Homo sapiens: one gene and its partners. The protein of the gene in region 1 interacts with the protein of each later gene in a biochemical or structural test. Each region holds a gene or a part of one and is shown in the gene's direction. Other genes may lie near its edges.

Evidence for each region.
Region 2: the proteins of CFTR (region 1) and PRKAA1 form a complex in vitro, tested with the Homo sapiens proteins (2 studies listed by BioGRID, with this or other methods).
Region 3: the proteins of CFTR (region 1) and NHERF4 form a complex in vitro, tested with the Homo sapiens proteins (2 studies listed by BioGRID and IntAct, with this or other methods).
Region 4: the proteins of CFTR (region 1) and PDZK1 form a complex in vitro, tested with the Homo sapiens proteins (2 studies listed by BioGRID and IntAct, with this or other methods).

The regions. Positions count from the first base shown.
Region 1 is NC_000007.14:117,608,661-117,616,357, forward strand, and holds part of CFTR (cystic fibrosis transmembrane conductance regulator), read left to right. Parts: intron 1-1,858; coding exon 1,859-2,009; intron 2,010-2,920; coding exon 2,921-3,148; intron 3,149-5,952; coding exon 5,953-6,053; intron 6,054-7,568; exon of another isoform or gene 7,569-7,680; intron 7,681-7,697. UniProt on the Homo sapiens protein: Epithelial ion channel that plays an important role in the regulation of epithelial ion and water transport and fluid homeostasis. Mediates the transport of chloride ions across the cell membrane.
Region 2 is NC_000005.10:40,766,678-40,774,374, reverse strand, and holds part of PRKAA1 (5'-AMP-activated protein kinase catalytic subunit alpha-1), read left to right. Parts: intron 1-2,511; coding exon 2,512-2,656; intron 2,657-4,871; coding exon 4,872-4,959; intron 4,960-5,437; coding exon of another isoform or gene 5,438-5,492; exon of another isoform or gene 5,493-5,939; intron 5,940-6,684; coding exon 6,685-6,909; intron 6,910-7,697. UniProt on the Homo sapiens protein: Catalytic subunit of AMP-activated protein kinase (AMPK), an energy sensor protein kinase that plays a key role in regulating cellular energy metabolism.
Region 3 is NC_000011.10:119,180,666-119,188,716, forward strand, and holds the start of NHERF4 (Na(+)/H(+) exchange regulatory cofactor NHE-RF4), read left to right. Parts: upstream 1-4,809; 5' UTR 4,810-4,829; coding exon 4,830-4,845; exon of another isoform or gene 4,846-4,963; intron 4,964-4,970; exon of another isoform or gene 4,971-5,256; coding exon of another isoform or gene 5,257-5,259; coding exon 5,260-5,287; intron 5,288-5,426; coding exon 5,427-5,500; coding exon of another isoform or gene 5,501-5,813; coding exon 5,814-6,025; intron 6,026-6,604; coding exon 6,605-6,794; intron 6,795-6,898; coding exon 6,899-7,035; intron 7,036-7,241; coding exon of another isoform or gene 7,242-7,253; exon of another isoform or gene 7,254-7,274; coding exon 7,275-7,479; intron 7,480-7,623; coding exon of another isoform or gene 7,624-7,655; exon of another isoform or gene 7,656-7,689; coding exon 7,690-7,886; intron 7,887-7,974; coding exon 7,975-8,051. Other genes in the region: NLRX1 (NLR family member X1 isoform 1 precursor), read left to right, coding at 506-592, 1,429-1,680, 2,453-2,774.
Region 4 is NC_000001.11:145,676,130-145,683,826, reverse strand, and holds part of PDZK1 (Na(+)/H(+) exchange regulatory cofactor NHE-RF3), read left to right. Parts: intron 1-1,190; coding exon 1,191-1,327; intron 1,328-2,719; coding exon 2,720-2,915; intron 2,916-5,181; coding exon 5,182-5,378; intron 5,379-7,613; coding exon of another isoform or gene 7,614-7,669; intron 7,670-7,697. UniProt on the Homo sapiens protein: A scaffold protein that connects plasma membrane proteins and regulatory components, regulating their surface expression in epithelial cells apical domains.

The DNA.
Region 1 (7,697 bases):
TGGTTAATTTTGATTTTGTTAAATAATTAATCACAGGGGTCCTTCAAATTGTGAGCTCCTCTGGTTATACTTATGTTTTACCTCTGGTTATACTTAATTTCAAACAAATGAAATTTCATTCTATTCATGATATTTCAGAAGCAGATCTGTTGCACAAAATAAAGCATACCTATAAATTTTCTTTTTTTAAAAAAAAGTCTCTGTTCACTCTATTTTCTATTATTTTTCTCTTTTTAAAATTTGAATTTTATTGTGGCAAGTCCACTTAACATGAGATTTACCCTCTTAACAGATTTTTATGTGTAAAATACAATATTGTTCACCATGGGTAAATGTTGCACAGCAGATCTCTGGAACTTATTCATTTTGCACTACTGAAATTTTATACCTGTTGATTAGTATCTCCCCATTTCCCTCTCTCCCCTGTCCTGTTACCCATGGTTCTGTTCTTTGCTTCTTTGAGTTTGAGTATTTTGATACCTCATGTAATCTTCATTCTATTTTCTAACTTTGACAATGTTCTGACAAATTTGCTTTCCGGATTGGAGCACTGTATAGTGAAAATTGAAAATCTTGGTTATTTTCTACAGATTCCCACTATTTTACCTTGAGCAGACACTTATCTTGAAGGGTCTCAGATTTGTCACTTGTAGAATGGGGAATATAAACCTGATAATGGTCCCTTTCAGTTCTAAAGTTATATCAGTTGAAAATACATGTGTCACTTATGGTAACGGGTAGAGAACTGGCTCACTGAACAGCATATGGATATTATAAAGTGGTTTTTTTTAATCCTTTCTGCAGACAGTTACTTTATACTTTATTCAAATGGATTATTGTGAAGTACATGTTAGCGGACTTTGTACCTTTTAAAAATGTATGTATTTGGTGTAATGTAGAAATATAGAAATTTATTAAGTATGATTTATTTCAATGTTAAGCATGAGAAAATATGCTCCGAAAGGTTAGATAGCTTGCCTAAATGACAAGCTTGTATTTCAAGCAGAACTTTCTGAATCAAAAGACTCCAAGACGAATGCCCAGCTTTCAAAAACTGTCTAACCAAAATAAATCCTAAGATTCACCTTCATACTAAAATTATTTAAAAATAGTTTATTTTAAATTAATATTCACTTAAAATGTATTTATCATGCAATACTTTAAAGTGTCTGGGAAATGAAAATATCCAAAGATCAAAGAACACCATGTTTTCAAACTTCAAAAATGTTATCAGTGACCTAAACAATTTTTAAAATTTTCATAGAGCCTATGAAAAATGTACTTGCAAATGGCTACTTTCTGACTAGGAATAGAATGGGGAGAGTATTTAGTCCAACAATGATAGACTGGATTAAGAAAATGTGGCACATATACACCATGGAACACTATGCAGCCATAAAAAATGATGAGTTCATGTCCTTTGTAGGGACATGGATGAAATTGGAAAACATCATTCTCAGTAAACTATCGCAAGAACAAAAAACCAAACACCGCATATTCTCACTCATAGGTGGGAATTGAACAATGAGATCACATGGACACAGGAAGGGGAATATCACACTCTGGGGACTGTTGTGGGGTGGGGGGAGGGGGGAGGGATAGCACTGGGAGATATACCTAATGCTAGATGACGAGTTAGTGGGTGCAGTGCACCAGCATGGCACATGTATACATATGTAACTAACCTGCACAATGTGCACATGTACCCTAAAACTTAAAGTATAATAAAAAAAATAAAAAAAAGTTTGAGGTGTTTAAAGTATGCAAAAAAAAAAAAAGAAATAAATCACTGACACACTTTGTCCACTTTGCAATGTGAAAATGTTTACTCACCAACATGTTTTCTTTGATCTTACAGTTGTTATTAATTGTGATTGGAGCTATAGCAGTTGTCGCAGTTTTACAACCCTACATCTTTGTTGCAACAGTGCCAGTGATAGTGGCTTTTATTATGTTGAGAGCATATTTCCTCCAAACCTCACAGCAACTCAAACAACTGGAATCTGAAGGTATGACAGTGAATGTGCGATACTCATCTTGTAAAAAAGCTATAAGAGCTATTTGAGATTCTTTATTGTTAATCTACTTAAAAAAAATTCTGCTTTTAAACTTTTACATCATATAACAATAATTTTTTTCTACATGCATGTGTATATAAAAGGAAACTATATTACAAAGTACACATGGATTTTTTTTCTTAATTAATGACCATGTGACTTCATTTTGGTTTTAAAATAGGTATATAGAATCTTACCACAGTTGGTGTACAGGACATTCATTTATAATAAACTTATATCAGTCAAATTAAACAAGGATAGTGCTGCTATTACTAAAGGTTTCTCTGGGTTCCCAAATGATACTTGACCAAATTTGTCCCTTTGGCTTGTTGTCTTCAGACACCCTTTCTTCATGTGTTGGAGCTGCCATTTCGTGTGCCCCCAAACTCTACTTGAGCTGTTAGGGAATCACATTTTGCAGTGACAGCCTTAGTGTGGGTGCATTTTCAGGCAATACTTTTTCAGTATATTTCTGCTTTGTAGATTATTAGCTAAATCAAGTCACATAAACTTCCTTAATTTAGATACTTGAAAAAATTGTCTTAAAAGAAAATTTTTTTAGTAAGAATTAATTTAGAATTAGCCAGAAAACTCCCAGTGGTAGCCAAGAAAGAGGAATAAATATTGGTGGTAATTTTTTAAGTTCCCATCTCTGGTAGCCAAGTAAAAAAAGAGGGTAACTCATTAATAAAATAACAAATCATATCTATTCAAAGAATGGCACCAGTGTGAAAAAAAGCTTTTTAACCAATGACATTTGTGATATGATTATTCTAATTTAGTCTTTTTCAGGTACAAGATATTATGAAATTACATTTTGTGTTTATGTTATTTGCAATGTTTTCTATGGAAATATTTCACAGGCAGGAGTCCAATTTTCACTCATCTTGTTACAAGCTTAAAAGGACTATGGACACTTCGTGCCTTCGGACGGCAGCCTTACTTTGAAACTCTGTTCCACAAAGCTCTGAATTTACATACTGCCAACTGGTTCTTGTACCTGTCAACACTGCGCTGGTTCCAAATGAGAATAGAAATGATTTTTGTCATCTTCTTCATTGCTGTTACCTTCATTTCCATTTTAACAACAGGTACTATGAACTCATTAACTTTAGCTAAGCATTTAAGTAAAAAATTTTCAATGAATAAAATGCTGCATTCTATAGGTTATCAATTTTTGATATCTTTAGAGTTTAGTAATTAACAAATTTGTTGGTTTATTATTGAACAAGTGATTTCTTTGAATTTCCATTGTTTTATTGTTAAACAAATAATTTCCTTGAAATCGGATATATATATATATATGTATATATATATATATATATATATATATATACATATATATATATAGTATTATCCCTGTTTTCACAGTTTTAAAAACCGATGCACACAGATTGTCAGATAGCAATTCTGTGATTGAAGGGGAAATATGTCACCTCTTCATACTCATATTGGTGAAGGGTCCTAGCTTCAAAATTAATAGATTCCTAAAGAGGGGAAATGAAACATCCGCATTTACACACACACACACACACACACACACAGAGTTCCTCTTGTCGGTAAGTTTTGTTTTTTTTAAATCTCTACTAGATAAAATTTGTTATCTAATTGTGAGTTTTACACAAAGAAAAACTGTCACAGAAAAGAAAGACAGTGTCACATTTTTCAAAAGAAAAAGAAGAAAAGAAAGTGCCATGTTTTTCAAATACAAATGTTCTGGATTGATTTTAGGATCTTTAGTGAAAAACAAAGTATTTCATAATAAGTAAAATAAAAATCTATGTAGGTAAATTTGTTTCTCTAATTTAAGAATTTGAATTTCTGAGTATTTATGATAAGTGTTGAAATAACTTCTTATATGTGACAGTGAATACTGGCAGAGCAAATGCCAAATCAATGCCAAATCTGTAGGATCATTTGATTGTAGGAACAGAATTCTACTCAAACCGAAAGCAGGCATTTGCTGGAGTTACAGAAAGGCCTCATGGAACACCGAGAAGGTGGTGCCATTCGACTCTTAAAGAAGCTGCAACAGGCACAAGAGAGTCAGCTGCAGCTCTTCTTCTTGAGTCTATATCTGTCCTGGGTCCATTCCTTTTTGTGGTTGCTTCATTCCTTTCTCTCTCTGAAGACTGGTTTTTCTGGTCTACCAGGGCTATGCCACATTGACTTTATGTAGTGTCTCCATTCTGGCCTCCTGAATTTACAGGAGAGTTCCTCTGTACAAACTCAAAGTCCTGGAGAGAACAGAAAACAGCTTCCTTTTGGCTCAGGGGTCCAACTGCAGTCTACTCTGCTGCTATGAGGATAGTGGGTTCACCACCTTTGTTGTTCTCTCAGCTAGGGCAGTGGGAAATGACTCTATGAAAGGAATATACATGGGCAGGCAAATGTACTAATCCTCATCAGTACTGTAATTTTAAGCAACTTTAAAAAATTCTTTTAAGTTATTTGAAAATAAGATCAAAGAAGGCTGAATTACATAAATGAAGATTTGTTAACAATTAATTCAAACCAATATAACACATGCTATAACATGGTTGAGTGTGATTGAGTCTTGATTTATTAGGGGCAATAATCAAAACATTTAACAATCATTATAGTACAGAACTTACCAATCAAATCAGATGCTCAGCCGGAGTGGATGTTGGCCACCCAGCTATTATTATCCCTGGCTCAATTGGTCTTCAGCTGTGTTAACTTGCAAACATTAATTAACTATCTAAGCCCCTCATTTTCCTCAAGTGTAAATAGACACAATAATATTACCTATTCCATAGGTGTGGGGTGAATAGTAAATGTAATAATTTGTCCAAAACACTTAGTATAGTGCCTGGTCCATGGTAAATACTAAATAAATGTTATCTGACTTATTATTAAAATTTTATCTTCTCAGCTTAACCTTCAGAACAGTAATATATTGGGGTCTAGATAAATCTTGCCTATATGAAAATAATTTAATACTACATGCAGATATATGCTGTGTATATTATGCCTTCTGTTAGAGGAATTGCAGAAACAAAAATTTCAATTAATAATAAGATGAATTATTTCTCCCAATTGTAGAATCTTTTGACAATTTTATCATGCATTACAGATGTAAGAACTCTTGATTGGGACTTGATAGTCTAACTTTATAATAATTTAAGAACATTCCTCTTAGAGAATTTCTATGGCCATAATACTGAACACATGAATTTTAATTAGCTGTCCTCTTTAGCCCTAAAAAAAAAATTACTGTAATTTAACACTTAAGTGTTGTTCTTCCCAGGTACAGTAATCTTTTTTTTTTTTTTTTTTTTTTTTTGCATAGAGGGTAATCTTTTCTCTTTCCAAATGGCAGAACTGTTAGTTTTCTGACTGTCCGGTGAAATTCTAAGTCCACTTACTTCCCAATAGCATGCAATTAGCAAAGGTCCTCCTTGCAAAGGCACAGAACACACCTAAACATCTTGCAGATGCTGTTTGGACACTCTTCCCCTGCTTTTGGTCTCTTTGTAAAGCAGCTCATCTGGATACAGGATCTCTTTTCCCCATTGCCCATTCTAATATATGTTACCGTTATTACTTATAGAATAATAGTAGAAGAGACAAATATGGTACCTACCCATTACCAACAACACCTCCAATACCAGTAACATTTTTTAAAAAGGGCAACACTTTCCTAATATTCAATCGCTCTTTGATTTAAAATCCTGGTTGAATACTTACTATATGCAGAGCATTATTCTATTAGTAGATGCTGTGATGAACTGAGATTTAAAAATTGTTAAAATTAGCATAAAATTGAAATGTAAATTTAATGTGATATGTGCCCTAGGAGAAGTGTGAATAAAGTCGTTCACAGAAGAGAGAAATAACATGAGGTTCATTTACGTCTTTTGTGCATCTATAGGAGAAGGAGAAGGAAGAGTTGGTATTATCCTGACTTTAGCCATGAATATCATGAGTACATTGCAGTGGGCTGTAAACTCCAGCATAGATGTGGATAGCTTGGTAAGTCTTATCATCTTTTTAACTTTTATGAAAAAAATTCAGACAAGTAACAAAGTATGAGTAATAGCATGAGGAAGAACTATATACCGTATATTGAGCTTAAGAAATAAAACATTACAGATAAATTGAGGGTCACTGTGTATCTGTCATTAAATCCTTATCTCTTCTTTCCTTCTCATAGATAGCCACTATGAAGATCTAATACTGCAGTGAGCATTCTTTCACCTGTTTCCTTATTCAGGATTTTCTAGGAGAAATACCTAGGGGTTGTATTGCTGGGTCATAGGATTCACCCATGCTTAACTGAGTGGTGCCAAATTGTCCTCAAGTCTGTTGTACTGATATATATCCCCATCAAGAGAGTACAAGAATTCTCATAGCTATGTATCTTCAACAACACTTGGTGTCTGGTAGATGTGAAGTGATTACTAAAAATATAGGGAAGCTGCATACATAATTATTGGCTTTTGCTGTTCTCTTACATTAATTTCTTATTCATGTTGATTACTCATTTGTCACCTAGTTTTTTCTTCCTTAATTAAATTGTAGGAATTTATGAATTATGGATTGATCATCAGCTCTATACATTTCAAACATAATCCCTCAGTCAGTGGCTTGGCTTATAGAGTCTTTTGATGAAAAGAAGCTTTTAAGTTTAATAAAGTTCAATTTATTGTCTTTTCCTTTATGTTTTGTGCTTTTGGTATCTTGATTAAGAACTCCTTCCTTATATTGGGTTCTCAAATTTAGCAGCATAACATTTTCATACTATTATTTAAATTTTTTTCACATTATTTAGTGATAGCACCTTTCTTATTCCTAAAGTGTTTATCATTGCCTTCTGTCTTTCTGCTTGATAAATATTGCCACACATTTGTATACTTTATTAGTGTGTACAAAGACCACATTTTAGTTGTGTTATTTCTCTTGTTTTGGTTTTCTAGAATGCAGAGCCATTAATATTATAGTAATGCTTATGTGCTAATACCATATCAGGGGCACAAATCCCATTGCAGCGGGACTGAGAAATTAAAGGAAATGATGCACATTTACTCATTTTTGTTTAAAAAATCAAATGCATATTTTTCAATCAGACTATATGGTTGGTCTGGATAGCTTCATCATTGAATTTTTAAAGTATTTTTGTACTACTGTATTTAAAATTATTCATTCACCACTGCTTTTGTAGATGGTTTAGAAACCCAAGTTAGGAATGACTGTGCAACACTATTATTATACTCTTTTTAAAATTATACTTTTTGCTTAAGTTTCTTTCCTTGTTCTCTGAGACAGTGTTCATGTTCCCAAACCACACACATTTATTCAGCTATAAAATTTGTATGATCAACTCCTGTCAGAACAAACATCATTATAAAAAATATCTCCAGGAAAAAGAAAACCCTTTTAATGCTCTCTTCTGGTTCATGTGTCTTCTTATTTTCTTTAAGCATTTTCATAACCCATTGAGCTGTAATTTAATTGGAACATGATTTATACTAAAGTTGGTTTCTTTACCTTTAACTTTTTTTTTTAGTTTGATCAGCTCTCTTTAGCTTCTGTAGTTCGGTCTTTAATTCCATTCCAGTATGCTTTTGGAGTTGGGTCTCATAAATGTATAGAAATGTTTCTGTTGGGAAACAGCAG
Region 2 (7,697 bases), on another chromosome or scaffold:
CATTTTTTTAGTCTGCTGTTATTTGCCTCACAGATATAATAACCTAGTCTGAGGATGGCATTTTAAAAAAAGTCTTCCTCTGTTCCGTCTTGTTCTGTACCTTCTGTGCTCTCTGCATTCATTTTATTCATTTTTGTCTTTGATGCATGGCCCTTCTTCAGATATTTGGTGATTCTTGGCTGTCCACTAAATATTTAAGAATAGGGTATTAAATGCCAGGCTCATGTGGGTAGGACTTACTGATTGCTGGGTTTTCTCATAGCTTGAATAGGTAGGGACTTGTCTGTTTTATTACTGTATACCAAATGCTAATAATAACAAATATGTTTTCTTGGATCAGATATTTGCTCCAGAAGAAACCTTCCCATTTCCTTAAAGGCCTTAGCTTAGCTGCCAGTGCTCCAGGAGCTGAGTGGAGAAAAGAGATGCAAGTCTCACTAGTTAGTATGTTGACTTTGTCTTAGCCCCCATGTTTTCCTTAGGATGCCTTATCCCTGCCTTGGTGTCCTTGAGAGCAGAGCTGGTTCAGCCTTACTAGAGTAAATTATAGGTCTTATTCCCCAATATGGGTGAGTTTAAAAGCTTCTTACTTCAAGCACTTGTCCTGTTTTCAGCTCATCTCTCACTTCTACCTTGAGCAGTTCCCTGTGTTTCCAATTTCTAAGGCTTCCCAGGCTTTGTATGCAGATGTTTATTTTTTACTGGTTTCTACCCCTATAGGCTTAGGTTTTAGCTTTCTCTTGTAGGCTTAGTCTTTATTACTGTTTATCTATTGTCATCCTTGGTGACTCCTCTTGATTACTGCTGTCTCTTTTGTTCTTTTTGTCTTTATATGCCTGTTTTATTGCTGATGTCATTTTAGTGATGTTTCAAGAGTTGGAGACAAAAGATTTAATCTGTTACATTTAATTGGAAATGTATTTTGACTTTTCTAACCTTCCTTTATAGACATCCCTTTCTCCATCCTTTGTAATTGTACTTGTTACTAATACAGTATAATTTTCATTTTTGTAGCCTGTCTATTTTACTTTTTATATTTTGTTTAATCAAGTTTTCTCCTATTTTTTCATATTTGAACAGATACTCTTTTTTTTCCCCATGAACCTACAAATCTAGAAATAAAAGTATTAGAATGCTAAAGGATTAGTATTTTTCTAGAGGAATGGTATCTTATAATAGTTTCTTGTTTCAAAATAAATTACTGATTTGTATTTTCTCCCATATTATCCATGCCCTTTAAGGTGTAAGTCTGGTTTTAGAATGCTAATTTGTGACCTGTGTTAGAGAATTGCATATTGGAGTCCTTCGCCTAGAGGATTAATAGCTTATTTATTAAATATGACTTCTTGGGAGCAGGCATGTCCAAGTAATGGCTGTCACTTATGTTGAAAAAAGTGGTAATAATATATGGATACATAGAGAAGTTTAAAAAAAATACTTCAGGCTGCATGCAGTGGCACATGTCTGTAATCTCAGCACTTTGGGATGCTGAAGCGGTAGATTGCCTGAGCTCAGGAGTTCGAGACCAGCCTGGGCAACATGGCAAAGTCCTGTCTCTATCAGAAATACAAAAATTAGTGGGCGTGGTGGCATGTGCCTGTGGTCCCAACTACTTAGGAGGCTGGGGTGGGAGGATTGCGGGACCCCAGGGAAGCCGAGGCTGCAGTGAGCCGTGATGGCATCACTGCACTCCAGCCTGGATGACAGAACGAGACTGGATCTCAAAATATAGATAAATTTAAAACCCCGCCCCCCCAAAAAAACACAAAAAACAAAAATGAAAAGGTAGTTGCTATGTAAGATTTTTTTTTTAGCAAGCATATTAAAGATAAAATGCTATGATATTTTATTAAATGAATTAAGGTGTTTGTTGTTAAAATGTCTTCTATTTTAGGACATATAGCAACATAGTTGCTTGCTGGTTTATGAATAGTGCTTAAATATTACTTCCTCATGGTCTAAAATAGTGTCCCTCACCCCACTATCACTCACTGCACCTATATTTTGCTTTATTTTTCTTCAAAACAGTATCACTCCTTCTGACTATATTTATTAGTCTATTTTCATCAACTAGATTAGCCTTTGTTTTATTCATTGCTGTGTAATGAGTGTCTAAAGCAATGTGTAGCACGTTGAAGGTATTCAGTAATTTGTTAAAAGAATGAAAGAGTAAACATTTGCCGCTTATAAAAGGAAATATGCCAAATTTCAAGTAGATATTGAAATTATTTGAAATAACTCATGAGATATAGAGGAAGGCAAGCTGTTACAATGTAGTCATATGCAAATGATAATATTAGAAACTTGAGTTACTGATTTGGGTTCCAAGACCATCTTAGCATTTCTGTTTTGTGCTGCAGGTATCTCCTCCTCATGTCAAAAGTATCTCATAAGTGAAGTTCATTGGGAAGATTTTCATGTATTTTGACAATTTTATAGGTTGGAGAATTATAGATAGGACAATTTACTTTGAAAGACACACCTTTAAAAAGCCTCTCTAACTTTTCTTAGCTGGATGAAAAAGAAAGTCGGCGTCTGTTCCAACAGATCCTTTCTGGTGTGGATTATTGTCACAGGCATATGGTGGTCCATAGAGATTTGAAACCTGAAAATGTCCTGCTTGATGCACACATGAATGCAAAGATAGCTGATTTTGGTAAGGATAATTTTATAGTTTCTTAACGTTCATTTCTAATGTTCTTATAGTTTCAATGAACCTACCTAGAATTCTTCAGATAACTGTAAAAGATTACATAAAGTAATAGACTGAGTATATCAAAGTATTCTGTTTTGTCTATGAAGATACAAAAAGAAGAAAAGCTAAGAAATCATCTTTTCTTAGCTTTAAATGTCTTTATTACTATTATTTTATAGAGGCAGGGTTTCGCTTTGTCGCCCAGGCTGGAGGGCAGCGACGTGATCATAGCTCACTGCATCCCCAAACTACTGGGCCAGGTGACCCTCCTGCCTCAGCCTCCTGAGTAGCTGGGACTGCAGGCGTGCACTACCATGCCAGGCTGTTTTGTCTTTTTGTAGAGACAAGTTCTCACTATGTTGTCCAGGCTGCTCTTGAACTCCTGGCCTCAAGTGATCTTCCTACCACAGCTTCCCAAAGTATTGGGATTACAGGTGTGCACCACTGCACCTGGCTCTTTAAATATCTTTAAAATTAAATTTTAAACAACTTAAGTTGGTAGTATTAGAGAGACTATTTGAAAAGAGTATTATTTGTGAAAGAGAAGGTAGCAGCTTTATTTCCAGTATGTTCAAAAGAATCAAGTATGGAGAAGAAGGAAAGTGAGTGGGATGGAATTATTTAAAACCTTAAAAACCAGAAGTGAACTATGTGAATTTAATTATTTAAAATTATTTAAAACAATTTTTTAATTAAAAAAATTTATTTAAAAATTTAAAAATGTTTTAAATGATAGTAAATTATAATTTGTTTAAAGAACATTTTGATTGTTAAAAATGAATTTATTTTGGCTGGGCGTGGTGGCTTATACCTGTAATCCCAGCATTTTGGGAGGCCGAGGCGGGCGGATCACCTGAGGTCAGGAGTTCGAGCCCAGCCTGGCCAACATGGTGAAAACCCATCTCTACTAAAAATACAAAATTAGCTGGGCATGGTGGTGCGTGCCTATAGTCCCCACTACCCTGGAGGCTGAGGCAGGAGAATTGCTGGAACCCAGGAGGTGGAGGTTGTAGTGAGTTGAGATCGCCTGTCCGGCCTGGGCGACGGAGTGAGACACGGTCTCAAAAAAAAAAAAAAAAAAAAAGAATTTATTTTTTCTGTATTTCCTATATAAATTGCCATTGACCTTACTAAACCTAAGAGAAAAAGGAATCTCTTCTTTTCTTTAGGTTGGTTTTAGTTCAAATCAGATAACTTTTTTTTGTTTGTTTTTTGTTTTGAGACAGAGTTTCACTCTGTCACCCAGGCTGGAGTGGTACGATCTCGGCTCACTGCAACCTCTGCCTTCCAGGCTCAAGTAATTCTCCCACCTTGGCCTCCCAAGTAGCTGGGACCACAGATGTGGGCCACCACATGCAGCTATGTTTTTTTTAATTTTTGGTGGAGATGGGGAATCACTATGTTGGCCAGGCCGGACTCGAACTCCTGAGCTGAAGTGATCCGCCTGTCTTGGCCTCCCAAAGTGCTGGGATTACAGGCGTGAGCCACCATGTCTGGCCCAGAGAACATTCTTATAAAAATTTTCCTCAGTTTTGACTACATCTATGTATCTATATCTATAACTATATCTATTTAAATGTTCAGAGATTAACTGGAAAATGCCAACCAAACCTGAGCTGGTTGTTTTGGTGTTTTGTTTTTTTTTAAAATAGTAATTGGCTAAATTATTTGAATTTCTTATTCCTCAGTTGATTATTTTTATAGGGTGCATTTTTGAGGGAGCAACAGTTTCTTTTTGGAGTAAAACTGTGAGGGAACTTTGAAATTCAAAATTACTGTTTTTTTTTTTTTTTTTTTTTTTAAAGAATCAGAACAGGCTTAATAGGAACTTTGAATTTTAATCCTTCTATTCATCTGTTATAGATTATTTTCCCTAGTGATTTCTGTATTAATAAAACTTAAACATGGCAAGTTTTTTCTAATAAGCAAAATAACCAACAGCTTAATATATTTGTATTAAACTCTAACAGTGCACTAACTTTAAATGTTGAAATAGATTACACATTTTAGGGCATAATGGCAGAATATTTGGCTACAATAGACCATAGGATTTTGTTGAAGCAAATAACAAAATGATGATTTATCATTTTAATGCAAACTCAATTTTATTGTTTAATGGGATTTTAATTTTTGTCTTTGGGAAATCTTTTGAGTAGCTGATTTTGTGCACTTTCAGGTCTTTCAAACATGATGTCAGATGGTGAATTTTTAAGAACAAGTTGTGGCTCACCCAACTATGCTGCACCAGAAGTAATTTCAGGAAGGTAGTATTTGATACCCTGCCTCCCTCAATACATTTGAAATTGTCTTTTTCTCCTAGATTTTGTTAGTCTATAGTGTCATATTTAATTCTAATGAAAGGAAAGAAAGATAAGGCTTATTCTTAACCACATTTATATGTGAATGAGGGTTAAGGACTACAAGTCAACATTATATTAAAGTTGTTAGAAGAGAGTACATTAATTTTTTTCCCAGGTGGAAGAAATGGAAAGTTTAAAACTAGGGTGTTTAAAAAGTAGGTAAGACACTGGAAACTTGAATAATACAGAAATATCTAGTAGTTAGAAAAGGATTACTATTTACTTAGAGGAAAAATTAAACATGTAATGTGTAGCTTTAATTTTTTACATAGATGGCATTTTGTAGTACCTTTATGTTTCATGATAAAATGTCTTGGGGAACTGGGCTGAAGTAATCTTTAGACTTCATTTATGTTGAATCTTTGTTCTTTAAACCTTTTAGAGACTGCAATATTATAAGAATTTTAACCTCTCAATTTACTAACTACCAGCATTGAGAACATGAAGATATTTGTACAGTGTCGCTTTTTGAATAGTTTGGAAAACAGGAGAATTTAATATTTTTAAGAATAACTCTTTGTCCTTCACTATACTACTGAAATTGAAAACAGAAGCTGAAGTTTGCTAGATTTATAATGAACTTTTAATAACTTTTCACCCAAACCATGCTTATTTGTGTGAATGTTTTGCATCTTGATTAACTCAATGCAGAAATACTGTAGTATTTTCTATTTTTATAAGCTTGTTGGCCTAGACTGCTCAAAGAAATGAGATTTGTGTAAAAATATGGCTGTGAGTAAGGCAGGAGTACCTAATTTTAGATTTGTCAAGTTTCATCTTTTTTTTAAATATTAACTTAATGTCAAAAATTATTTAAAAAATTTTTAAAAAAATGGTGTTGTCTATCTTAATTCTTTTAGGAATAAAACAATTCAGGACATGGAGACTGTGGAAAGTTGTTATTTAAATAAATAAAAAGAAATGTTATAACTGTGCATATATGCAATGGGCTATTACTGAAATTTAATTTTTCTAGTTTGGATAAAGTCTTTCTTCAAGCTCTTGGTGTATGAGAACTTTTACTTTCAAAATAATATTTATCGATCAGTTCAGCAGTACATAAATTTAAAGAAATCCTTTTCCTGAATCCAGGCTTTGAATGGGTGATCTAACTAGTCTGCAGCTAGTTAAGGCACTTGACTACAATGCACTGCAAACGGGATTTAAAAACTCTGTGAACCAATTTGCCTGGCTTTCTTTCACAGCCTCAGGATCCTTTCACCTTGGTGTAAGGGGTCTTGTGTTATTGGGATTGTGGGCTCAGAGTCCATTACTAAAGAACATTCTCAGTTGATGAAATATCACTTAATCTCTCCTCTGTAACAAAAACCAATGGTTTTAAATTGAATAGTGATATGTTTGTTCAAGATTTGGCCCTATTGTCAGATCCCATCAGGGCCATAGTAAATAGTAGAACAGAATTTTAGCCATGGTGTGTAATTTACAAACTTCTTGACTTTTGTTTTCAAAGATAATACTGATGGAATTAACGTTGTAACATGTAGTAGTGGCTATAAAAACCATATTCTGCTTAAGAATTCTTTATGAAATATCCATATTTGAAGTTTTTGATGAACTGAATCTTAGGTTAAAATGATTCTTTAATCCAATTGTTATTTCCTGTTACAGATTGTATGCAGGCCCAGAGGTAGATATATGGAGCAGTGGGGTTATTCTCTATGCTTTATTATGTGGAACCCTTCCATTTGATGATGACCATGTGCCAACTCTTTTTAAGAAGATATGTGATGGGATCTTCTATACCCCTCAATATTTAAATCCTTCTGTGATTAGCCTTTTGAAACATATGCTGCAGGTGGATCCCATGAAGAGGGCCACAATCAAAGATATCAGGTAATAAAGCAGTTTGGAAGTTATCAGATCTGATAGTATCCATGATAAAAGTTATGTGAAAAAAAAAAAGTTGCAGAACAGAATATACAGTGTAATCCTGTTTTTATGTGAAAAAAATAGAGTGTATAGACACATTTATTTTATTTTGTTATTAGAAATACATAGTAAACTGGTTACCTTAGGGAAGTAAGATTCGTAAGAGGGAGGGCTTTCACTTTTTACTTACACATCTTTGTTTTGAAATTTTTACAGTGAACATCATATTACTTTTTAAATTAACAAAAAAGCTAATGAAAGATTGGTGCTGTGGCTCACACCTGTAATTCCAGCACTTTGGGAAGCTGAGGAAAGAGGATCATGTGAGCTCAGGAGTTTGAGACCAGCCTGGGTAACATAGCGAGGCCCCATATATATGTATATCTTTTATTTTTATTTATTTATTTTTTTTGAGACAAGGTTTTGCTCTGTCACCCAGCCTGGAGTGCAGTGGTGTGATCATAGCTCACTGTAGCCAGTAACTCCTGGGTCAAGTGATCCTCCCACTTTAGCCTCCCTAGTAGTTGAGACTACAGGCATCCACCATCATGCCTGGCTGTTTTTTGTTGTTATTGTTTTGCTTTTTGTTTTTGTTTGTAGTGACAGGTCTTGCTATTTTTGCCCAGGCTGGTCTTGAACTCCTGGCCTCAAGTGATCCTTGTGCCTTTCCCTCCCAGTGTTGGGATTACAGGTGTGAGCCAGTATGCCTGGCGTTAGGATTAATACTTTTCAGTAGTAAATTTGTGGGTGGC
Region 3 (8,051 bases), on another chromosome or scaffold:
ACTCCAGCCTGGGCAACAACAGCAAAACTCCGTCTCAAAAAAAAAAAAAAAAGTCTAGTTTGGGTGGAGGTGACAGGAGCAACAGAAGGGAGGAGCCAGGCATGGTGGCTCCTGCCTGTAATCCCACTGCTTTGGGAGGCCAAGGCAGAAGCATCACTTGAGCCTAATAGTCTGAGACCATCCTGGGCAACATAGCAAGACCCTGTCTCTACAAAAAATTAAAAAATTAGTCAGGTGTGGTGGCATGTAGCTATCATCCCAGCTACTCGGGAGGCTGAGGTGGGAGGATTGCTTGAGCCCAGGAGTCTGAGGCTGCAGTGAGTTGTGATCATGCCATTGTGCTCCAACCTGGGCAACAGAGTGAGACCCTGTCTCTCAAAAAAGGGGAAGCAGGTATAGATTCCCAGAGGCAGGCTGATGAAAAAAAGGCATGGTAGATGGACAGACTGCCTGCTGAATTCCCTCCCTGGTCTCTCACCTCCCCTCTGGCCACCTTCTGCTCCAGCTTGCAACTCAACAGCCTGGGCCCTGAGGCCTGCAAGGACCTCCGAGACCTGTTGCTGCATGACCAGTGCCAAATTACCACACTGCGGTGAGTGACCTGGGAGTGGGGCATCCTGGTGGCCAGCTAAGGTCAAGGGTGAGCTCCCTGCTTCCTGACATACTTGGCACAGACCCACCCAAGGGATAGTAAATGGAGGAGAGTCTAGGCCCTGACCTGTCCCCTCCACTTCCCCCAGGTCCACTGCAAGCAGCAGGGCAGCAGGGAAACATGCCACCTGTAATGGGTGCTAAGAAACCTCTCACGTGGCTAAAATCAGCCTGGGGGAGGTGGGGAGAGAGGGTGGAATAATACCTAGGCCGGTTGCCTGGTAACAGTGCCACTGATCCCCTCCCAGGATTTTTCTTGCAGCCTCCCGAGGAGGACCCTAATGCTGGGCACTCAGTAGACACCCCTTAAGTGTTGACTGATATGTGGGGAACCTGAGCTCCTGGGTTCCCAGTTTCTGATTGGTGTAAGGGGAGGCAAATGAGGAGAGAAAAAGGAAGAGCAGGGAGAAGGATAGGGGAGTCAGAGGGGAGGGAGAAGCAGAGGCTGTGGAGGGGGTGAAAAAGGCAGAAAAAGGGAAACGGAAATGGTGAAAAGGAAGGGAATAGATAAGAAGGGAGTCAGGGGAAGAGGGAAGGAAAGGCCAGCTCCCCTACTCTGACTCCTCTGCCAGGCGCCACACCCCCTATTGCTCCAGCCTTTCTCCTGGGCCTGCATTTCTATGTCCAGGTTCCTCTTGCCCCATGCAGGGCCCTCTTTGGCCCAAGTCCTGACACCCAGCACAGGGCTGCCCCATTAAGGCTGCCAGTACCACCCCCAACCTTGCCTCCCCCTCCTCTCAATGAGCCCTCATAACCTTGGGTTGCACGTGGCTGTAGGCTGTCCAACAACCCGCTGACGGCGGCAGGTGTTGCCGTGCTAATGGAGGGGCTGGCAGGAAACACCTCAGTGACGCACCTGTCCCTGCTGCACACGGGCCTTGGGGACGAAGGCCTGGAGCTGCTGGCTGCCCAGCTGGACCGCAACCGGCAGCTGCAGGAGCTGAACGTGGCGTACAACGGTGCTGGTGACACAGCGGCCCTGGCCCTGGCCAGAGCTGCCCGGGAGCACCCTTCCCTGGAACTGCTACAGTGAGTCCTGTCCCTGGTCCCATTGCCCCCAGCCCTTCAGACTACTTCCCTCTCTCAACTGTGCTCCTCCAATCCTAGGGAGTGCTTCTGGGCCTGGGCCTGGTGCCTGTCCTTTATTCCTGGTTTCTGACTGATCCTTGTCAACCTAGCTCTGAGCCAACCCACCCCCTCTGTGACTGGCGCTTAAACTGCACCAATTCCCTACCACCATTTCTCCTAAAGCCCTACTGTCTCTGGTCCCACTGAATTCTAGTATCAGGGTCGGCTGTGGTGGCTCACGTCTGTAATCCCAGCACTTCGGGGGGCCAAGGCGGGCACATCACCTGAGGTCAGGAGTTCAAGACCAGTCTGGCCAACATGGTGAAACCCCGTTTCTACTAAAAATACAAAAATTATCTGGGTGTGGTGGTGCGCACCTGTAATCCCAGCTACTTGGGAGGCTGAGGCAGGAGAATCACCTGAACCCGGCAGGTGGAGGTTGCAGTAAGCCGAGATCATGCCACTGCACTCCAGCCTGGGTGACAGAGCAAGACTCCATCTCAAAAAAAACAAAAACAAAAACAAAAACAAAAACAAAAAAAAAAAAGAATTTTAGTATTAGTCCCTGCCTCCCACTGGCCAGCAGCCTCCACCTCTGGCTCATTGCAGTTACCTGATCGCACTCTGCAGCCAGGAGATGAGTTGTGAGGCCCCCTGACTTTCCATCCATCTACCCTCGGGCCCTCCTTCTCAGAGCTCTACTGAATGGCATCGACTTTCTCTCTCCTGCCAGCCTCTACTTCAATGAGCTGAGCTCAGAGGGCCGCCAGGTCTTGCGAGACTTGGGGGGTGCTGCTGAAGGTGGTGCCCGGGTGGTGGTGTCACTGACAGAGGGGACGGCGGTGTCAGAATACTGGTCAGTGATCCTCAGTGAAGTCCAGCGGAACCTCAATAGCTGGGATCGGGCCCGGGTTCAGCGACACCTTGAGCTCCTACTGCGGGATCTGGAAGATAGCCGGGGTGCCACCCTTAATCCTTGGCGCAAGGCCCAGCTGCTGCGAGTGGAGGGCGAGGTCAGGGCCCTCCTGGAGCAGCTGGGAAGCTCTGGAAGCTGAGACACTGGCGGCAGGCACCTAGCTATGTGACCACTGGCCCTAAACCTTTTCCCTCTGTGGCCTCCTGGCTTGCACTGCTCCCTCTAGAAAGATTCCTTCAGGTCTGGAGGCAGAGGAATGGGCATAGCTGAGCCAGTTGCCCTCCTAGGGCATGTTTGACCAGGACTGAGTCTGGAATCTCCAAGTTAAAGATGGTGAATCAATGCTTCGGGCTTGGAGATGGAACATGCCTCCTCTCCATTCAGCTAGAAGGACCAAAGCATGTGGCATTTGGATGGCCAGAGTGCCCTGAAGCACCACTACCAACCTTGCCTCCCCCTCCTCTCAAAGAGCCTCTGACTGTGTCACCAAGGGGCTCACATCTTATGTCTGCCATGCCAGGGGTGTCGCCATCCAGATGTGTTGGAAGCTTCCCCTCCTGCCTTATGCTCACCTGTGGACACCGAGGATGCCCTCACATTGGTGCTTTCTCCTCATCCTCATGCCCCCTTTGCCACAATGGTATGATGGCTTGGTAGCCCCTCGAGGCAGATGCACCTGACTTGCTGCTATTAAAAAGCCGTGTGCCTTCTACCAATTGTGGCCTCTTCTTTACTGCCTGGTGCTTCCAAGAAAGGGCACTGTTCTTGGTCTTTCTGGTTAAACTACCAACCATGATCTATTGCAAGTGGTTCTTGGGCACTAGGTTCAGAGGCAGTGGAGGCTGGAAGGGCCCATGAACAAGATATTGGCATGGGGGTTGGCCATGCTGGGCTGTATTAGTCCAGTCTCACGCTGCTAATAAAGACATACCCAAGACAGGGTAAGTAATTTATAAAGGAGGCTGGGCATGGTGACTCACGCCCGTAATCCCAGCACTTTGGGAGGCCGAGGTGAGCGGATCACCTGAGGTCAGGAGTTTGAGACCAGCCTGACCGACATGGATAGACCTCGTCTCTACTAAAAATACAAAATTAGCTGGGTGTGATGGCACATGCTTGTAATCCCAGCTACTCGAGAGGCTGAAGCAAGAGTATTGCTTGAACCCAGGAGGTGGAGGTTGCCGTGAGCCGAGATAGTGCCACTGCACTCCAGCCTGGAGAACAAGAGTGAAACTCTGTCAAAAAAAAAATTTATAAACGAAAGAGGTTTAATTGACTCACAGTTCCACATAGCTGGGGAGGCCTCACAATCGTGGCAGAAGGCAAATGAGGAGCAAAGTCACATCTTACATAGCAGCAGGCAAGAGAGTGTGTGCCGGGGAACTCCCCTTTATAAAACCATCAAATCTCATGAGACTTATTCACTATCATGAAAACAGCACGGGAAAACCTGCCCCTGTGATTTAATTACCTCCCACCGGGTACCTCCCATGACACGAGGGAGTTATGGGAGCTGCAATTCAAGATGAGATTTGGGTAGGGACACAGCCAAACCATACTATGGGCCATAGAATTATCACCCTTTTCACACTTACCCCCCAGGCTTGGAGTTAGTGACCAGCAATCTGCCTTTCTCTGCACAGAGGGGCAACTGGGTCAGATTCAGGGTCTCCAGAAAAAGTTGGGGCCCAGGGATAGATTCAGGAGGAACCCACACAGTTTTCCAGAGGATAAGACTCTCAGCGGGGCACGGTGGCTGACGCCTGTAATCCCAGCACTTTGGGAGGCCGATGAGGGCAGATCACCTGAGGTGGGGAGTTTGAGACCAGCCTGACTAATATGGAGAAACCCCATCTCTACTAAAAATACAAAATTAGCCAGGTGTGGTGGTGCATGCCTGTAATCCCAGCTACTCGGGAGGCTGAGGCAGGAGAATTGCTTGAACCTGGGAGGCAGAGGTTATGATGAGCCAAGATCATGCCATTGCACTCCAGCCTGGGCAACAAGAGCTAAACTCGGTCTCAAAAAAAAAAAAAAAAAAAAAAAAAAAAAAAGACTCTCACTCCCGTTAACCATTACCCCACTGCTTCCACAGCGTCTTCAAGGAGGCGGGACCTGGGAGGGGATGGGTGGGAGGATCAGTGGCTGTGATGAACCTTGTCCCTACCCCGGGCACTGGGTTGCTGATCCAGCTATGGAGAAAGCCGCAGGTAGGAGGCCAGGAGAAATCCTCTGCAGGGGACTTTGGGACAGGCAGGGGGCCGACTTGGAGGCTGAAGCTTTGGGACCAGGGCACACTTGATTTTGGGGCTTGGAGCCCTGAGGCAGGTAAACAAGTCAGGAGAAAAGTAATGAGTTGATATGTCTGTCTTCCTGGTCCACACCCTGTACTGATATGCTCAGATTTATGTGCCAAGGACTTGGGGGGAGAGAAAGGGAGGGGACCGCACAATAGTCCTGTGTGTATGGCAGTGAGAAGAGAAGACCCCTTTGGAGCAGAAAGGAGGGGGCATGCCCTGAGTTTGGGGGTTTCCCTGAGTCCTTTTAGTTTATGCCAATGGAAGAGGCACATCTGGGGAGAAGAATGTGACTCTCCTCCTCTCACCCACTTCTTTGCCCAGTAGATCTGCAGGACACAGCCTCGTTAACTCTGTAAGTGCCACGAGGGTTGGGGCAAGGGGAGGAAATAATTGGAGGCAGCGAAGCGCTTCACTGCCATTAGCACCTAAAGGAGATCCTGGGACCCAAGTCCAGCTGCCAGCTTGTACCTGCTTCCCCTGCCTCCTTGCAGGAAGTTTAAGTTTAACCCAAAGCTGGGCATTGATAATCCTGTCCTCTCCCTGGCCGAAGACCACGACCCCTATGGTAACTCCCTCACCCCCTGGCAACCATTCCCTATCCCTGGAGGCACCACGGCTCCACACGGCCTCCGATCTCCTTGGTAACCACTCACTCGGTCTCCCTCTGATAACAGCCTTGGTTGGGAGTAGAGATAGGAGGGGCCGGGTGTTTTCTCCTGTCCCAGTCCCTCTGCCCACGAACCCCACCACCCAACACCCAACCAGGCAGAAACTGCCCAGCACCCTATCAGGACACAGGGTCTGCCAGGCACACGGCGAACCTGTACTTGGGCTGTGCCCTCTCCTCCCCCTTTTCTGCTGCCCACCTCACCCTCCAGATCCCTGGAGCCTGGAGCGGCCTCGCTTCTGTTTACTGAGCAAAGAGGAGGGCAAGAGTTTTGGCTTCCACCTGCAGCAGGAGCTGGGCAGGGCTGGGCATGTGGTGTGCAGGGTGGACCCAGGCACCTCTGCCCAGCGCCAGGGTCTTCAGGAAGGAGACAGGATCCTGGCGGTGAACAATGATGTTGTGGAACACGAAGACTATGCGGTGGTAAGGCTGTGGTCCAGGAGAGCATGCTAGCACCTCAGAAAGAGAAGCGGGTTGCTCAGTCCCCTGGGCAGTATGGCAGCAGGGCACAAGCCTCACTCCCCCACACCCCAGGATTTAGAAGTGCCCAAGTCAGAGGGGTAGGGAAAGCATCTAGAAAGCCGATTCCCGCTGGGCGCAGTGGCTCACGCCTGTAATCCCAGCACTTTGGGAGGCCAAGGCAGGTGGATCACCCAAGGTCAGGAGTTCAAGACCAGCCTGGCCAACATGGCAAGACCCTGTCTCTACTAAAAATACAGAAATTAGCTGGGCGTGGTGGCAGGCGCCTGTAATCCCAGCTACTCGGGAGGGCTGAGGCAGGAGAATCACTTGAACATGGGAGGCGGAGGTTGCGGTGAGCTGAGATCGCACCATTGCACTCCAACCTGGGCGACAAGAGCAAAACTCCATCTCAAAAAAAAAAAAAAAAAAGAAAAAGAAAAAAAGCCGATTCCCTTGGCAAAAAAATGTGGATTCCAGGGAGGTCCTGGGGGTTGGCAAGAGGGTCTAGACCAAACCCACGCCCACGTGCCCTCTGTCCAGGTGGTACGCCGCATCCGGGCCAGCAGCCCTCGGGTGTTGCTGACAGTATTGGCACGGCATGCACATGACGTGGCCCGAGCTCAGCTGGGAGAAGATGCCCACCTCTGTCCCACCCTAGGCCCAGGGGTCCGGCCCCGGCTGTGCCACATAGTGAAAGATGAGGGTGGTTTTGGCTTCAGTGTCACCCATGGTGAGCCCAGAGGGTGCGAGGGGGCGGCAAGGATGAGGGATCTCAGCCCCTGTTCAGGGCAGGCAGGAAACAGACTGGACCTTGCTTTTTTTTTTAATTTCTAGGCAATCAGGGTCCTTTCTGGTTGGTGCTAAGTACTGGAGGAGCAGCTGAGCGGGCAGGGGTGCCCCCCGGGGCCCGGCTGCTGGAAGTGAATGGGGTCAGTGTGGAGAAGTTCACTCACAACCAACTCACCAGGAAGGTGTGACTGCCTGTCTCCCACTCTCCTCCCCCAATCCGGGCCTGGGCCCCACCTCGGGAAGACGCCTCCTTCCCCATGCGCCTAACCTCCTTATCTGGTCTCCTACCTTTATCACCATCCTCCCCCTCTACAGTTTGTGCCAGGCTCCACTTAGTGCCTGGGAGGAGGGGCTGTGGGGGGAGCATACCTCTTCTCTCCCTGCCCAGGTGTTATACTGATGCCCTGCTGGGTCCCCACAGCTTTGGCAGAGTGGACAGCAGGTGACCTTGCTGGTGGCAGGGCCAGAGGTGGAAGAACAGTGTCGCCAGCTGGGATTGCCCCTGGCTGCACCCCTGGCAGAGGGCTGGGCACTGCCCACCAAGCCCCGCTGCCTGCACCTGGAGAAAGGGCCCCAGGGTTTTGGGTTCCTGCTCCGGGAGGAAAAGGGCCTTGACGGTCGCCCTGGTGAGTGGGAGCCCTGGGGGCGGTGGGGGAAGGTGGGCCTTGGGGTGGGCACACAAGCGTATATACACCTTTCAGTGCACCGAAGAGGTGTCCCTGTCTGAGCTCTGGCCCTGGGCCGCCTCTTCCCGTTCACTCTGGGGTCAGTCCCCTGGTGTGTACACAGTGGCCTAGGATAGCTGGAGAGGAGCAGTGAGGATGTCTATGCCCCAGGACAGTTCCTGTGGGAGGTGGACCCGGGACTGCCAGCCAAGAAGGCTGGGATGCAGGCTGGGGACCGGCTGGTGGCTGTGGCTGGGGAGAGCGTGGAGGGGCTGGGCCATGAGGAGACAGTGTCCAGGATCCAGGGGCAGGGCTCCTGTGTCTCCCTCACTGTCGTCGACCCTGAGGCGGACCGCTTCTTCAGCATGGTGCGTGCTGAGGGGCAGGGGCTAGGGTTGGGGCAGGAGTGGGGCAGGGCTGAGGTCCGAAAGATTTGCTCTCCCTGCCACCTTCCAGGTTCGCCTGTCCCCACTCCTCTTCTTGGAGAACACAGAGGCTCCCGCCTCGCCCCGGGGCAGCAGCTCAGCCTCACT
Region 4 (7,697 bases), on another chromosome or scaffold:
TAAGTGAAAAGTTCTCGATTTAATAAGGAAAGAAAAAATACTGTATGCTGAGGTTGCTAAGATTAGCTCAGTTATTGTTAATCTCTTACTGTGCCTAATTTATAAGTTAAACTCTATTGTAGGTATGTAAGCACAGGAAAAAACATATAGGGTTCGGTATACTATCTTAAAGTTTCAGGCCTCCACTGGGGGTCTTGGAATGTATCCCCCATGGTTAAGGGGGAACTGCTCTATTAATATCTTTGAAGAATTGACAGCATTTCTATAAGTAGCACCTAAATCTCACCACCTAAATGCATTCGGGTTCTTCCCTCCCTCCTGTGCCTGTCCTTGTTAGCCTACATTGGTGAGATGACTCCACAGCATACGATGGCTAATATAATAGTACAAACTGAAGAGGAGAGAATGGTAAAGATGCTTTCTGATTCTACAAATGCAAAGAAAGGGCGTATGACACAATAATGCAGTGTGGGCATGTTTTAGCGCTTTCTGGTTCAAGGGGCCAAGGCCACCCAAGATTCCATCTTTGCATTTAGCTGACCTCAGAAATTCTATTCAAATCAACAAATACCCACTGAGTAAAGGCTGTGTCAAGTTCAGTGCCAGGACCTATAACTGTGATTTTAGATCAGAAGCCAAAGGCCGAGTTAGCTCTAAAATCGGAAGTTTGTTTCACATTATTGGGAGAAAAGTCTTTACCATTGGATTTCGAGTTTTTCTTTGCAATGGAGTGTTCTGTGAAAGGGTGGTGTATGCAAAGCAGTCCCTCAAAGGCCAAAGGAGCTGAGAAACCAAAGGACAAGGCAGGCAAATCCAGTTTGTTGGTACATTGGAATTTATCAGGGGAACTTACGAACAGAAGCATGGTCTTGGACAGCCACAAAACATGTAGATCTCTGTGTTACTCCCCAGACCCAAGGCTGATATACCATAGGGAAAGGGTATATGTGCTCCAGCAAGACAATCGAAGGCAGCCCTCCGCAATAGCCAAGAATGCTATAGTGCATCATAGCCTATAATTTGCGTGATAACATTAAGGTTGACATGTTCTTAGACTAGGGACAGTAAATGAAGTAGAAATCGGGAGGCAATCACAGGACTGGGGCTAATCAGAAGTCAACATCACAGATTACCATCCAAGAGGGAGTCACTTGTGTCTCCACATGGAGTTTACCCCTACTCTCTTCCAGGTAAAAAGGGGGTGTACATGACTGATATTACACCTCAAGGTGTGGCTATGAGAGCTGGAGTTCTGGCTGATGATCACTTGATTGAAGTGAATGGAGAGAATGTAGAGGATGCCAGCCATGAGGAAGTGGTTGAAAAGGTATGCCCCAAAGGGTACTTTTCTTACCCTATCTTCCACTCTATTCTCATTGGAGGTGACAGGAAGACAGGGGTGGTAGGGGACAGCATGAGTTTATGATGGAAAAAATATCCAGTTGAGTTGCCCCTTCATATTAAGGGTGAACAGACTCACACTAGTGGTATAAGCAGTGTTAATATAGGGTTTTGGAATAAAGCCTTCCCTAGTTTCACATGAGGTCTACAAAATTATTAACTTTACCTTTTGGATCTTGTTTGTATCTGATTGGGAGCCCCCTCTGAACTGTTTGATTGAGACAGGGTCTCACTCTGTTACCCAGGCTGGAGTGTAGTGGCACAATCTCGGCTCATTGCAGTCTCGGCCTCCTGGGCTCAGATGATTCTTCTACCTCAGCTTCCTGAGTAGCTGGGACTACAGGTGTGCACCACCGCACCTGGCTAATTTTTATGTGTGTGTGTGTGTGTGTGTGTGTGTGTGTGTGTGTGTGTGTTTTGTAGAGATAGGGTCTCACTATGTTGGCCAGGCTGGTCTTGAACTCCTGAGCTCAAGTGATCTGCCCGCCTTGGCCTCCCAAAGTGCTGGGATTATGGGCGTGTGCCACTGCGCCCTCTGAATTTACAATAAGTTCACTGTTGAGCCGTTAATACTGAAATGCTTTAATAGGAAGTGGGAGATAACCGAGATTTTCCTTTGAGGTCATATGGAACCTTAAAAATTGACCAACCTTCTCTTTGTAGAATGATTTTTTGACGTGGACCCTTACTTTCTTTTCTTTTCCAAACTCCCTTTCTAGCTTTTATCTAGGTACCTTTATGGGTTTTCTGAATTCCAGCTCCTACTTGGGCTCAGTTAGCACCTATGTGGGTAGGTCATACTTAAATAAGGGAAAACAACTATAGAAGTGGAGATAGGGGCCGGGCGCGGTGGCTCACGCCTGTAATCCCAGCACTTTGGGAGGCCGAGGCGGGTGGATCACGAGGTCAGGAGATCGAGACCATCCTGGCTAACAAGGTGAAACACCGTCTCCACTAAAAATAAAAAAAAAAAAATTTAGCCAGGTGCGGTGGCGGGCACCTGTAGTCCCAGGTACTCGGGAGGCTGAGGCAGGAGAATGGCGTGAACCCGGGAGGCAGAGCTTGCAGTGAGCTGAGATAGTGCCACTGCACTCCAGCCTGGGCGAAAGAGTGACACTCCATCTCAAAAAAAAAAAAAAAGGCGATAAATACATATCAGTTAGCTGGTAGGGCATAGTGTAACAGCTTAAACTCAGGCCTTTCATCCCCTATCTTTTGTTGAACCTAGAGACTGTGTGCCTTTATACAGAAACTTTCTTATTCCCCAGCATTGTTCTTGGGGGTTGATGTCATTCCTCATCTGTGTGTGTTGTTACAGGTGAAGAAGTCAGGAAGCCGTGTCATGTTCCTGCTGGTGGACAAAGAAACTGACAAGCGTCATGTTGAGCAGAAGATACAATTCAAAAGAGAAACAGCCAGTTTGAAACTGTTACCCCACCAGCCCCGAATTGTGGAGATGAAGAAAGGAAGCAATGGCTATGGTTTCTATCTGAGGGCAGGCTCAGAACAGAAAGGTAAGGTACAAGAGCAGGAAACTTGGCAGTAACCAGCAAATTCCTCATCCCATTCTGACTCCAGAGTTCCATTAGGTTCCCAACTCCCAGCCAGATGCATGAGCGGCATAGCATAGAAGGCACAGCTGGGTCAGCGTCTATGTCACATGAGGGTCTGATGTTGGGCATCAAAAGTTTCCATAGCATTATGATAAGGCAGAATTTGGGATCTGGGCAACGGTATCCTGGTAAGTTAGCTCTCTGGGGCGGGGGTGGGGGGAAATCCAAATTGGTAGCGTTTGTTTTTGGTACCAAATTGGTAGTATTTTGTGATGTAAATACTCCTCCCATGTCCAGTTTCAACTTACTAACACGATGTCACTGAACACAATGAAGTGTTGCACAGAATTGGCTTTTGTGAGCCGGTGTGAGCCAGTATAGCACACCGCTGGACCTGAGGCCGAGGTGTGGGTGAGGATTTGGGACTCAGAACCAGGAGTCCTCCTTCCTTGCAACTCAATAGGAAGAACACTAGGTTCTTTCAGGGAAGGTAAATACATAAAAGAACATGAGTTCGGGCCGTATAAACTGCTATTCGCCCATAAGTTGTTATTTTCTTTTCACTCTCTGTTTACATTAATTTATCAAATATTAATTTGGTTTGTGTTTTGTAAAAACATCCTCAGTGCCTTGGAGAAAGAATATCATATGAAGCAGACAGGAATTCTTTAGTGAAGGAGTCTACCATTTAGTAGATAAGAGATATGTCCATAATGAAGGGAGATAGAGGTTAAGTACCTTCATACAGGGGCAGATCAAGCACTGTGATAATTCAACGTTAGAGTAAGCTTTTCTCACTAAAAAGGTACCAGAAGCCCTCATAGTAGGGGTGGCACTTGAGTTCAGGCTTTGTAACATGAATAGATTTGGGAAAGTAGACAGAGCTGGGATAAGGAAGATCATTCCAGGAAGGTGGGAATCATGTGAACACAGTCAGGAGACACTGGCACAGTTTAATTGGCACATGATGTGTAGTACAAGAATTCGTTGGAAAGGTAGGTTGGAGAGAGGTGACAAGGGGACTTCTATGCAAGACTGATGAGTTTGAACTTGGCTTATCAGACAATGGGGAGTTGTTTTTTGAGCAGTATAAGGGAGAAGAACAAAAACCAGCCTATAATGTCTTGGGGGCTTTGCACATCTCAATTACTCCTAACAATTATGCAAGAAGAACTGCTGAAATTGAGGGCTTGGAGAAGATACAGTAATTATGTAAGGTCAAATAGTTGTTTAGTTCCAAAGCCCATGCTCATTCTGTTGCACCAGGAAGTGACTTGGTTAGGAATGTGCACCAAGATGGATCTGAAGGCAGATCTGTATCAGACAGAAGGACTGGGGAAGGGAAAGCAGTAGGTAAGGTGCTGTAATAGTTTAGGTAGAATTCTAGGCAGGAACTAATACAAACTGCATTCAGGGTAGAGGAAGTGGGATGTGTAAGGTATTATGGTAGCATCAGAGGACTTAGCAATCGTCTAGATATGGGGACTGGATGCTGGGGAAGAATCAGTTGCCAAGTGTTGGTGACTGGGATGATGTTGCTCCACTAACAGGTAACCAAGAGGAGGGGCTTTGGGATGGAGAATGGGCAGAGCTGATTTTTGGCTTGAATACATTACAGTTGAGAGATCTATGAGATATTTTGTTGGAGATACCCAGCAGCTAGCTGGAAAAGTGAAACAGGAACTTGTTAAAAAAAAAAAAAAAGGCAGCATCTGGTGAAGATACCAGAAGGCCAAAGCACATGGAGGCATGTATATACAAATATATTCAAAACCGAACACACCCAATTGCTACTAAAATGCCAGCCTGGGTTTCTTAAGGTCCAAAGTTTTGGGTTTTGTTCTTTATTCTTCCCCATCTTTTATGACAGCTTTTACATAAGACGCGTGGCTACAAGTATGCCCACTGACTTTCTGGGAACTTGCAGCCTTTTAATATGCTATTTTGCCAAAATCAAATGTCAGACGCTTTTAGTAACAGGATTATTTTCGTTAAGACCCCTTCATTGTTAATTGCTGGGTTAGTTTCTGGGGTGAGTTCTGAGCAGGAAACGAGCCTAGATAGTGTGCTTATAAGCTTCCTGGGATGCTGGTGGAAGGGGTGGTAGTTGTACTCAGCATGCCTTTTTTATCTGTTTCATCAGGGCTTTGGGCTCCAGCAGAAAATCTGTTTTATTTTTTTAGGGGACTTACTGATAATTTTATTTTTTGGGGTTGGGGGAGGGTAGGTCAAATCATCAAGGACATAGATTCTGGAAGTCCAGCAGAGGAGGCTGGCTTGAAGAACAATGATCTGGTAGTTGCTGTCAACGGCGAGTCTGTGGAAACCCTGGATCATGACAGTGTGGTAGAAATGATTAGAAAGGGTGGAGATCAGACTTCACTGTTGGTGGTAGACAAAGAGACGGACAACATGTACAGACTGGTAAGTAATACAAGGCCATATATTCATGCATTAAGGCTGGGCCCATTCACTCATGACCTCAACTTTTGCACTGAGTTAGGACTTTGTTCCTCAAACTGGAAGAGGCATAACAATCATCATTAAGGCTAAACTGAAGCTCAACTCAAATTGGTAGTGATAAGAGAATGCCAAATGATTGATAAATGAGTTTTAAGTCCTTGGTCTTAAGATTTTGAAAGAATTTGTGAATATAACTGCAGGCTTACTCTTGGTGATCTGAGAAAATCTATGGAGAATATAAGCCTGGAAATAAAATTGTTCCCAAAATAGGAAACAATTAGATTTTAAGCTTTAGGTCAGTTAAGTGCTATCAACTGCACATAAAAGCCTAGAAAGGATTATTAAACAACTTGTAAGCCCTTAGCAAATAAAAAAGAAACACAGATAGACCAAGACCAACCTGAATCAAACTAACTTTATTTTCTCTTAACAGCTCTTTATCATAACACCCACTACTGCATGTTTTAAGGTTTTTTTTTTTTTTTTTTTTTTTTTTTTTACTTTTAACACAAGAACTGAGGTTGTCTAGTTTAACAGATAACCTGGGGGGCCTTCTAAGTACCATCTGTCTTGCTAAGTGTTGATTGTAAAGATGAACAAGATAAATGTCCTCTGTGATATACAATGATAGTAGAATCTAAAATAAGCGGTACAGAGGGGGGAATATGATGGGTGGTGATATCTTAGGCCCTCCTCATAGATTAGGAAACCGAAGCTTAGAGAGACTAAGCACTTTGCTAAAGTCACGCAGCTTAGTAAAGACTGAAGGTGGTATCTGAACCCAAATTCTTGGACCCGTAATTCATTATACCATACTCCCCAGCACATTTTTTCAAGATAATCTTGTAAGCAGGATTAAACAATTAATTAGATTAATGGCTTTTTTTTTTTAGCTACTTGAACAATCATACCTAGAAAATACTTGATATCAACCTGAATATCAACTTGAATAGAAGTCTCTAATGGCATGCTACTTGTTCCTAACCGTTTATGTGCTTAAAGTTGAAAGGAGATATGGAAAATATATTAACATACTTAAAGTGGCACTAGATAATTCATTTGCTGGATGGTGTAATTAATACTCAAAATATTTAGTTAGGATAGAAAGAATGAAAACTAAAGAAATAAGAATAAATTTCAGATGTACTATACTAACCTAAAAGTAAATTGTATGAATACCACATGGTGAGACCTGATTTGAGGACTACAGAAAAAGACCAGAAACTTCATAGTCCAAGTGGTTGCCCCATCCAAATATGGTAATTTAAAAATTAACTGACAGACACTTGGCTTCTAGAGATGACCATCTTACTGTACTTACTTGGTCAGACCATACTTGGAATACCTGGTAATATAGTTACCACCTCTCTCTGTGCTTCAGTTTCCTTAGTTGTAAGAGAGGGGTAGTAGCTACAGCGAAGGGTGGCTATGAGGGTTGAATTGGAATATTCAGAGCATGTAGAATAATGCCTCACACATCTAAATGTTCTATTTGTTCAATCAATATTGTGTCCGGTTTCAAGAACTTCACTTTAAGAAGGCAATGACAAGGGTAACCAGGGAAGAGGTTTTGGAAGCCACCATGTGAGTATTTAGCTTGAGTAAGGCTTTGGAGAAGAGAGCATCTTCAAGAATTTGAAAGGCTATTACATGTAAGAAGGAGCACACTTTTTTTTTTTTTTTTTGAGACGTTGTCTTGCTCTGTCACCAGGCTGGAGTGCAGTGGTGCCATCTCAGCTCACTGCAATCTCCACCTCCCGGGTTCAAGCGATTCCCCTGCCTCAGCCTCCTGAGTAGCTGGAATTACAGGTGCGCACCACCATGCCCAGCTAATTTTTTGTATTTTAGTAGTTTTACCATGTTGGCCAGGATGGTCTCGATCTCCTGACCTTGTGATCCGCCCGCCTCGGCCTCCCAAAGTGCTGGGATTACAGGTATAAGCCAACACGCCCGGGCCACACATTTTTTTTAAGGTGTCCTATGGGGCACAACAGGACCAGAGAAGCCATAGGGAGCTAGCTTTTGGCTTAAGAACCAACTGAAGCTGCCAGAAATGATGAGTCATTTTGCAGTTGGTGGAAAGTCAAGCAGAAATCAGAGGCGGCTGCTGCAGCTGTTTGTTGTAAAGGGGATTCTGACCCCTCCTGATCTTATCATAGAATGATTTAATTGTAATTTTTCTGTTTTGGTTAATAGAGAACTTTGATCGAAAAAGAAGCCTGCCCTCATCATCTCCTTCCCCGCTCTCCAAAGTAAGCCCTGTAGGTTGGGGTGGAGGGT